2 separate regions of the Homo sapiens genome follow, and region 1 is linked to region 2. The links come from fine-mapping of genetic effects on gene expression. A gene starts in region 2. The other region holds a variant in brackets. All regions are shown on one strand. Distances are from middle to middle.

Evidence for each region. PIP is the estimated chance that this variant, and not a neighbour inherited with it, causes the effect.
Region 1: its variant is fine-mapped to the expression of ZBTB49 in subcutaneous fat (GTEx, PIP above 0.99).

The regions. Positions count from the first base shown.
Region 1 is chr4:4,254,734-4,260,107 of GRCh38, reverse strand. No RefSeq gene overlaps it. Among named protein-coding and RNA genes, the nearest start is that of TMEM128, 9.2 kb to the right of the region's middle. RefSeq lists enhancers at 292-586, 2,568-3,068. The variant G/A (reference allele first, on the strand shown) is at 2,948.
Region 2 is chr4:4,287,597-4,292,970 of GRCh38, reverse strand. It overlaps ZBTB49 (zinc finger and BTB domain containing 49), which reads right to left and starts at 2,720. Exons shown (of 8, transcript NM_145291.4): 1 at 2,619-2,720. LYAR (Ly1 antibody reactive) reads left to right here and starts at 2,817. Exons shown (of 10, transcript NM_017816.3): 1 at 2,817-2,935. RefSeq lists enhancers at 3,792-4,329, 4,330-4,868.

The DNA of each region.
Region 1 (5,374 bases), 33 kb after region 2:
GCTTAAAGAATAGCATCTGCCTTCCCCTGTCCTTTTCATATTTAAGAAACTTGAGATCTTGCTCTCGGCTCACTTATCATTAGATTTAACAGCTTCTGTAATTTGGGGTTGGACCCTGCTTCTCACTGTCTGTCTCGATTACAACACAGACGATTTCTGAGAAAAAGAAAAATGGTATGTACTGGTGAAAAGAGAAGTTTCTTTGTTTTCTTTTGAGTGCAAATGCTACTTTCATTTCTTGTTGCTGTTATGGGATCTAGGGAAGCTTTAATTTATTCCCTCTGATACAAGTGATTAAACTGCCCCTTGGGTAGTTTAAATTGTAATTGCTGAGTAAATACATATGTTTGTCAGAGTTTAAAGGTCACACATCGCTCAGGAGGTCAGGCCTTTGTTTGGCCACAGAGCGGGTATTGTGAGCTGTTGAAATACCACCTTTGCTGCCCTCCTCCCTTCCCGGTGACCTCAGGCCGACTTCTGTCCATTGTAGATCAAAGGTAGGGAAAGATTCGGTTCCACTGAGCAGTTGCTAACAGCATGGCTTTGGGGATTTGGCAGCAAATTTGAATCAGGATACTATAGTAGTAATGTCATAGGATAGCCCCGCTCAGACTGATTTTATACTGAACAGGGAGGTATTATACAGCTGAACTTGAAACGGTAGTCTCTCTTGCAGGTTTCAGAAAAAAGTTAAGGTCATAGAATTTCTCAGTTTTAGTGTCCCTGCGTAACACCTCTTAAGCCTTTTGGCATCTGTGGCCATGAGATTCTAATTTAGATGCTAGGAGAGCTGGCATAAACATTTATAGCACTTGGCTATTTTTTGCTTAATTTATCCAGATTTCATGATGTTCTACAAAAGTGTGCCTGGCACTCTACTGTGTGAATGAGTTTGAGAGTTGTGGGTCTATAGGGATAGGCAGTAACTTCAAGACAATTGTAATGATGGCAGCTACTGTATCTTTTTTTTTTTTTTTTTTTTTTTTTTTTTTGAGACAGAGTCTCACTGTCACCCAGGCTGGAGTACAGTGGCATGATATCAGCTCACTGCAACCTCTGCCTCCCAGGTTCAAGTGATTCTTGTAACTCAGACTCCCGAGTAGCTGGGACTACAAGGGCACATCACCACGCCCGGCTAATTTTTGTATGTTTTGTAGAGACGGGGTTTTGCCATGTTGGCCAGGCTGGTCTTGAACTCCTGACCTCAGGTGATCTGCCCGCGTCGGCCTCCCAAATTGCTGGGATTACAGGCGTGAGCCACCGCGCCCGGCCTAGCTACTGTATCTTGGGGGCTCTTTGTGCCAGGTGCTGTGTCGGTTCCTGAATGTCAGGTCTGCTTCTTGCCGCATCACAGCACCCAGGCTGGGATTCTAATATGGTTGTCCTTTCCCTCACAGCTGGGCATTCTGCTCACGGTTGCCAGTCTTGAAAGGCTGACAGTTTCTCTCCTTTGTCTATTCTTTTCTTTCTTTCTTTCTTTCTTTCTTTCTTTTTTTTTTGAGAAAGAGTTTTGCTCTTGTTGCCGAGGCTGGAGTGCAATGGCGCGGTCTCGGCTAGCCACAACCCCTGCCTCCCGGGTTCAAGCAGTTCTTCTGCCTCAGGCTCCTGAGTAGCTGGGATTACCGGCATGCACCACCATGCCCGGCTAATTTTGTATTTTTAGTAGAGATGGGGTTCTCCATGTTGTTCAGGCTGGTCTCGAACTCCTGACCTCAGGTGATCCACCTGCCTTGGCCTCCCAAAGTGCTGGGATTACAGGCGTGAGCCACTGCTCCTGGCAACACTTTGATTTTTCTAAGGTTGGCAGAGGGATTTCCTCATACGCTGTGTTCAAACATGTGTTTGCACATTGACGTTTGTGATTTTCTTTTTTTTAATTATTTTTATACGTTCTGGGGTACATGTGCAGGATGTGTACGTTTGTTGCATAGGTAAACATGTGCCATGTGGTTTGCTGCACAGATCATCCCATCACCTAAGTATGAAGCCCAGCATGCATTAGCTCCTTTCCCTAATGTTCTCCCCAACCCCACCGCTGCCCTCCAGTAGGCCCCAGTGTGTGTTGTTCCCCTCTCTGTGTCCGTGTGTTCTCATTGTTCGGCTTCCACTTGTAAGTGAGAACATGTGGTGTTTGGTTTTCTGTTTCTGCATTAGTTTGCTGAGGATAATGGCTTTCAGCTTCATCCATGTCCCTGCAGAGGATATTCTCTTGTTCCTTTTGATGGCTGCATAGTATTCCATGGTGTATATGTACCACATTTTCTTTTTCCAGTCTATCATTGATGGGCATTTGGGTTGGTTCCAAGTCTTTGCTATTTTGAATAATGCTGCAATGAACATATGTGTGCATGTATCTTTATAATACAATGATTTATATTCCTGAGTATATACCCAGTAATGGGATTGCTGGGTCAAATGGTATGATTTTCCTTTTTACATTAAAAAAAATTTCTTTCGTTCCTTTCTCTTTTGTGAGAAATCACACCCGGATGTCATTTTCACTACTTCTTGATGAGGAGGTGTGGAGTCTCTCAAGGGGATGACATGCAGATTCTTACTGGCATAAAAGTGACCCTCAGTTGGCGAATACCTTATTGAATTTCTGTACTATTATTGGGCATGTCCTAAGCCCTCAAGCAAGGGATGGCAAATAGATTCTATCTGACACTACAACTAACTCTAGTCAACTGGCAGTGATTTTCCGGTGCTCTTCAGGATTTTGAGGCTTCCACCTGGCTGTCAAAGGGAAATAAATGCTGCATTTGATCAGCAACATCTGCCACGGGTCTGGGTGGAAAGGGGCACCCAGGTTGCCACATCTTCCCTCCTGGCTTCTCATCTATGGAGATGGCCAGCACCATGGAGCCAGCATTCAGCAAGAATGGCCCCAGGGAAGGGAAAAGGAAATGGCTGCGCTGCCATCAAGAGTGGGCCGAGGTAAATATCC[G/A]GTGCAGCATGACGCAGTGGGATTGGAGTGCAGGTGCACAATCCCGTGCAGCATATAATCAGTTATGTAACCATGTTATGGGTGGGCTCATCCCCTGGCTCTGAGCCGCTATTGTCTGTGAAGCGCACAAATGTATCACGAACACTGTGAGAAGGCATGCATAATGGAGTTGGCTGCCTTGCAGGTGGGGGTGGGTGGGTGGAGCCAGGAAATGGTGAGCACACTGGGGAGTGCAGCTGCAGACTGTGGAGCTGGCACTGAGTGGGGCTGCTGAGCAGGCAGCCAAGACAAAGGCTGACACAGAGAATAAAGCCATATCCCACCTGTATAAGATCCCTCGAGTGTTCTTTCAGCTACCCGCCACCGGTCCACCTACTCCCCTCGGACCCCAGCTTGGGTTGGAAGCTGACACTGACTTTCTTTCTTTTCTGTGAGGTGGAGTCTAGCTCTGTTGCCCAGGCTGGAGTGCAGTGGTACGATCTCGGCTCACTGCAACCTCCGCTTCCCAGGTTCAAGCGATTCTCCTGCCTCAGCCTCCAGAGTAGCTGGGACTACAGGTGTGCACCAGCACACCTGGCTAATTTTTGTATTTTTAGTAGAGATGGGGTTTCACCATGTTGGCCAGGCTGGTCTCAAACTCCTGACCTCAGGTGATCTGCCCACCTCGGCCTCCCAAAGTGCCATGATAACAGGTGTGAGCCACCACACCCGGCTTCTGACACTGACAAATAGCTTATGTCCTGAGGTGCTTTGAGTCATGAGACGCAGTTTAGCCTGGCAGCCGAAAGCTTGGGTTAGTATCCTAGCTCCCCCACTTTCCTAGCTTTGAGCCTACGGAGCAAAGACCTGAGGGATGGCTGACTTTTGAACTCCGACAAAGTAGGTATTTTCTCAGTAATTGTAATTAAACTACCAAACGGAGAGTTTAATCATTCATAGCAAAGGAATACTTGAAAGAAGCTCCTTTGAATCTCATAACAAAAAAGGCTGGTGCCTCCATTTTCTCATGTATGAAATAGGAATTATAACAGTAACTGCCTCATCCAGCTGCTGTGAGGATGGCGTAGTTAACACGTGAGGGGCATGGTAAATGATGGCCAGTTTGCACCACAGTCATCCTTTCTTCCACTGCTTCCTGCCCTCTTTCTCCTGGCATGGCCACCAGCCTCACCCCTTCAAGGCCGCGTTGCAATGACCTGCTGCTGCTCCCCTGGGAGTGACCATGAGGCCTTCGTGGGCAGCCTTTCCCCACTGCCTGGATTCCACTTTAATATGAATTGTTCCCTTTCATGGGTACTTCCTATATGCCAGGCATAGTAATAAGCCCTTTACATGTATCATTAAGCTTTTCAAAATCTCTAGGAGGGAGGCGTTATTGCTCCCCCTTCATAGATGAGCAGGTGCCGAGAGCTTACGTGACTTGTCCCAGGCCACATGGTAAGTAGCAGAATCAGGACTGATTTGAACTCAGGTGCTGTATGGTAAATGCATCTGATAGCAATAACTTAAGCAGACCCTGGGAATGACCTTTATGGCAGATGCACCTGAATGTGTGTTCCAGATTAGGGAATCCGGGACTGGCCAACCAGAGATTCTTTCCTTGTCATCTGAGCCCCTGTCCTGTCCTGTCCTGTGAAACACGAGCTGTACAGGGGATATTGAAGCCCTGAGTTTTGGGTTGCATGAAGGTTGCTAGGGATAGCGTGGAGGTTGTTAGGGGTGGGTGTCAAAAGAAGATGCTATATAAGCTGCATGCCTTTCGAAAGCAGGTGCAGTTATCCAGGCCAGCCCTGCACCAGCAGACTCTCTCTTGTATGTAACACTCCATGTCTCGTTTGCTCTGGCTCTGGGTCTCTTCTTTAGCTTGTTGAACCTGGCGGTATCTACATTGGAGTCAATAGGGTTTTGGCACAACAGGTGTCTCCTTGATTTCTTTGTATTCTCCTGGCCAGCATTTTCCATTGGTCAGGACCCCCTTCTTGTTTCCCCCTTCCCTTTCTCAGTACTGATTAGATCACTATTAAAAAGATCTTGCAAGTAGGGTTTTAATTAAAAACAACAGGGTTTTCTAAGCGGGTTCCGTGATGGGCCATGTGATCAGAAAGCCTTTATCATGGTTTTATGGATGGTAATATCAGGCACGGCCATCATTCAAATATATAGGGTTTTTTTTGAAAGAGAAAAAAATGAGTCTGCTTTATTTGATCATCTGCAAAGCAGTAACAGACCAAGTTCCAGGCACCGAACAATCAGCCAGTGACAAGACTGACAAGGCTGCAGGGTTCGCCTGGGAAGGGCAGTCGGCCAGGACCCGCCTCCATTGTCCTCTAGGTTTGCCAGCCTGGTAGTGGCCCTCAACCTGAATGGCAGCAATTTAATAAAAGAAATTGTCCTCCCACAGAACTGGAACCCAAATGTTGCCGCACA
Region 2 (5,374 bases):
AAAAATGAAAATATGGGGGGAAAAGAAACAAGAAAAAGTTTAGATCAATGTGAATGAAGAAATGCTTCTAAAGAAAACAACAGCCAGAATGGAATTTCAACCTGCAGAGAGGACTCCTAGAGCAAAGGCCCCTCAATTCTACCAACAGGTCAAATACTACTGGATAGAATTTGTGGATGTTTTTTCAGCAGTGCCATTAATAGATTACTTCTCCAAGGGCCCACAGTTCACGCACCTTAAAGTCAAGCTTACCTCAGAGGGCTCCTAAGGAGTCTGCCCATCATCATACTTTCCAAATGGCTTACTTGTAGCTCCTCACCTCCACCCTACTCATAAAAGCACTGGCTTGAAGCAACAAACCTGGAATCTTGTCTTAGCTTTATGCTGACTCTTATCATACTGGGAAGGCCAATTGGGTTAAACAGATACTGTGTGCCTAACATGTGCAACAGATTGTCGCGAGGATGGAATGCTGACAAACGGAACAGATGTGTTCCCTACTCTTCACAGGCTCTGTGTCTCAGTTTTCCATCATTCACTTAACTTTACACAATGCCCATTATGCGCTAGGCACTGAAGGTACGATGGCAAACACATCAGATACGGTCATCCATGTCTTCATGAAGCATCAGTCTAGTGGGAAAAACAAGTATCGTTGCACTGTACCAGAGTTATTTTTTATTTTTTTCCGAGACGCAGTCTTGCTCAGTTGACCAGGCTGGAGTGGAGTGGTGTGCTTTCGGCTCAGTGCAACCTCCACCTCCTGGGTTCAAGCGATTCTTCTGCCTCAGCCTCCCGAGTAGCTGGGATTACAGGCATGCACCACCACACCCAGCTAATTTTTGTATTTTTAGTAAGGACGAGGGGTGGGGGTCTCACCATGTTGGCCAGGCTGGTGTCAAACTCCTGACCTCAAATGATCCACTCGCCTCAGCCTCCCAAAGTGCTGGGATTACAGGCATGCGCCACCACACCCGCCTAATTTTGGTACTCTTAGTAGAGATGGGGTTTACAGGGTTTCACCATGTTGGCCAGGCTGGTCTCTATCTCTTGACCTCAGGAGCTGCCTGCCTCGGCCTCCCAAAGCGCTGGGATTACAGGCGTGAGCCACCGCACCCAGCCCTGTACCAAAGTTATTAAATGGAGGAAGCAGAAATTAATTTGGGAGGGAGGGTCAGGGAAAACTTCCTGGAAGACACATCTATGCTGAAATGTGAGTTAAGTTTGCCAGACTAAAAAAATGAGAGGGCTCACTTTCTTTGAGTATTCAGGAGGACAAACAAACAAACAACAACAACCAAACCCAAAAACAGTACGAGAGCACAAACAAGACTGAAGTACACATATGTGCCCTGAACACAAAAAACATCTTGAGCACCCTGCTTTTAAGCCTCCTGGCCATTCTGTCACTTCTGTTGGAAAGTATTTCCCTCCTTGTCCATTTCTGTGAATTCCTTCTGTTATGGTTAAACTGTTCCCCCAGCACTCCAGAATGTGATTGTATTTGGAGATCAGGCTTGTAAGAAGGTAATTAAGTTAAAATGAGGCCATTAAGGTGGGCCCTAATACAACCTGACTGACGTTCTCATAAAGAGGAAATCTGGATGCAAAGAGAGACGCCAGAGATGTGAAAACACAGAGGAAAGACCATGCGAGGACACAGCAAGAAAGCAGCCACGTGCAAGCCAAGGAGAAATGTCTCAGAAGAAACCAAACCTGAAGACACCTTGATCTTGGACTTCTAACCTCCAGAACTGTGAGAAAATAATAAATTTCTGTTGTTTAAGCCACCCAGTATTTTGTTTGCAGTCCTAGCAAACTAATACACCTTCTATTCCAGGCCCAACACTGCTCACTTTCAGAGTGAAACCTTATCACCCATATACACACACCTTGGGAGTGAAGGTTTCTCACAATACTCTGTGCATCCTCCACTCAACTTTCATTCATTCATTTAAGCAACAAACACCTAGTGACCACCACTGTGTGCCAGACCCTGTTTTAAGGGCTGAGAAGAGCTAACGTTTATTGAGTACTTACTAAGTGGCAGCCACTAGTCTAAGCGATTTACATGCACCAACTCATGAAATACGACAAGGTTCCAGGGACGCAGGTGCCGCTATGACATTCGCTTTACAGATGCGGGGCTGAGGCACAAAGAGGCCACACCGTAATGAAACTGAGCTAGGCTGTGGGCTCTGTCGTCTTAAGCGCTACTCTCAACTACAGCGTGGAAGGAAACAGAAGCCGAGAGATGGGCAGCGCGTAGCGGAGGCGGGCCGGGCTGGCTTCCAGCGGGCAAAGCCTGGAGATGAGAGGGCGCGGGTGGGGTTTCCAGGCCGAGGAAGCTGCACCAGGGAGAAGGCCCGGCTCCCAGGCCCGGAACCTGGCCGTCTGGGTCTCAGTCCGCGTCCCCTGTGATGCCCGGCACAGAGCAAATGCTCGCTGACTCTCGCAGGAGCCGCCAACCCCCCGGGTATCCTCGAGTGCCCAGAGACGGGAAGGAGCGGTGGGTCCATGCCCTTCTGGGCCACCTTCGGGCGCCCGGCCTCCCTTCCCTTCCGGGCCATTCCCACCAGCGCCAGCCCCGCACGCCTTCGCAAGGCCGGCCACCTTACCCTCGGAGGCCGCTCTCTGCCCCGCCGCCTACTCTTCACCTGCAGCAGCTGCCTTCAAGGCCACTCGCAGCGATCCGCTGGCCGCGGAATCATCACGACAACGCCCCCTTGGCTTGCCGGAACCGCCTTCCTGCTTCCGTTGGCGTCACTTCCACTGGGGGGGGCGTGGCCGCGGTGCGCAGGCGCGCTGGGTGGTTCAGAAGCGAATTCTGCACCGCGAAGCCTGAGAGGCAGGTAGCTGCGGCGCTGGGCTGGCGGCGGCGAGTCCACGTGCTCCCCGCGGCCGGTTGAAACCGTTGGCGGGCGCTGGCTGAGAGGTGAGGGGTGGTGGCCCAGAGGTCCGACCTGGGAGGCTGGGGCTCAGAGAGTGAGTAGGGGAGGGACGGGATTTCCACCGTCAGCCCCTCTGGGTTACGCATGGAGGAAGGAGTTCCATTCAGATCTCACTCCTGCTCTGGGGAAGTGGCAGGAGTCCTGGACTTAGGGTGACCAACTCGTTTTAGTTTTAAAACTTAAGGTCCGGCGTCCTGGGAACTCCCTCGGGCCTGGCCAAACCAGGACGATTGGTCACCGCCCGACTGGGCTTCAGGCTTGCTGCATGTTGGAGACAGGGCTCTTCTCTGAGCCTTGGGAGATCAGTCCCTAAAGAGGAGGCCTTAGGATGTAGCGGTCCAGAGCACATACTTAGGATCAGAATAACTACTGCGTGTGAATCTGGGTTGCCACTACCTGGATGTGGGATGACCTGGTGTAAGTTTTTTAACCTCTTTGCGCCTCACTTTCCTCATCTGTCATAACATATAGAATCTAACTCGGAGAACTGTGATGAGGATTACATGAGTAGAAATGTGTTAACCTCCTATGAGAGGGCTTGGGTGCTCCATGAATGTTAGGATTCTCTGAAGCACCTACCTCTGAGGAGAGAGGGAGGAGGATGAGGTGGGGTCTGTATTTGCAACCCTGATTTCTAGCAGAGAGGGCCCACTTGGGACTTACTCACACTGTGCCCGAGGCTCCCAGGGTCTAGCATAGTGCCTGACACATGGTAGTTACTCGAGTGAAGGGATGGTGTTTAAAACAGTGCTGGTGATGCCGTGGGTGGGGTAGGAGGCAGAGAGAAATGGCTTCTGTGCCTCAGTTTGCTCATCTGTTTAGTGGAGATAGGTGCACCTACTTCCCAGGGCTTTTGCAAGGAACAAGGGAGAGATTCTCTCCTTGTGAATGTCACCCATTGTAACCCTTGTCAGCCTCATACACAAAGGTTTAGGCAGGATGGTGGACAGAGTATGTTTGTCTGTCCTTCTCTTGCACCATACCCATGGTTTCTCAGAATGCTACCCGTGGAAGGGGCTTGAGTCTTGTCAAGTTGGCCTGACTTCTTGTTTCACAGATGAGATAACTTGAAGTTTATAGAGGCAGTGGCATGCTCAGGGTCACAGTGTTCAGTGGGGGATATCCTGGGGTTGCCAGCTAGGCCCCTCAGGTGGGCTGTTTGAGTGGTAGTGGTGGTAATGATGTGTAGGTCAGTGTCTGCATGTGCATGCAAGAATATTTTAAGAATAGTCAAGGCCAAGCGCAGTGGCCCGTGCCTGTCATCCGAGCACTTTGGGAGGCCGAGGAGGGTGGATCACCTGAGGTCAAGAGTTCACAACCAGCCTGGCCAACATGGTGAAACTCCGTCTCTACTAAAAATACAAAAATTAGCCGGGCATGGTGGCATGTGCCTGTAATCCCAGCTACTGGGGAGGCTGAGGCCGGAGAATCACTTGAACCTGGGAGGCAAAGGCTGCAGTGAGCCGAGATTGCGCCATTGTACTCCAGCCTGGGCAACAGAATGAGACTCCGTCTCAAAAAAAAAAAAAAAAAGAAAAAAAATTGAATAAGTAATACAAAAATATAGAGGGAAGAAGATTTAAAAAAAATCATTCCAATCTCAGAACCAAACCTAAGGGCATGTTATCAGGGAACTTGGTAAAGTAGGCAGCCATGGGGTGAGGAGCCAGAGAAGGTTGGAGTGAATTTATGAACATAAATGGGTGGGTTGATGGTCATATTTAAAGGAGCATGGGTTTAGGAGGGGGCTGGGTATAATAGCATTGATGTGCAAATTAGTAGGTCACAGAGAAACCTTTCTACAATTGGGCAGGGATGAAGCTTTCATATCTGGTGTCTTATTTAACTTTCCACCCAATGCTTTGAGTTAGGTATTAGATCCATTTTACAGATAAACAGATTCTGGGAAGTTAAGGTGCTTTGAGGTCATTTAGTTTTTAATGACTTTTTTGACATTAGCAGATGTAGGCTCCAGCTCAGATCCTCTACACCTGAGTCAGGGCCCTGTCCAACAAAAGCTGGCAACCATCTTGTTAAGAGAAGACTAACAAGTTCCCAGCCCCTTAGTGACCACTGGCTGCTGCCCCTCAGCTAGCTTTGCTGTCCAGACCCTGACAGCCTCTCCTGTGACATGGGTGGTCTCCTTGCCCACTGCACAGAGGTTTTATAATTAAGACTTAGGGTTCTAATATTTATACATGGAAAGTCATCTTATAGAGACCTTAATTTTTTTTCTCTTTGGATGAGGACCTCAAGGTCCCAGGTGCTGAGTAACCACCAAGCAAACGGCTAGGACATGGCAGGTCAAGATGGAGGCAGGGTGGGAGCCTGGGCTTGCTGCCTGGTCTTTCAGGCCACCTCTGCCACTTACTGTGACTTCGGGCAGTTCACTTACCCTCCTGAGCCTTAGGTTTTCTCTCCAG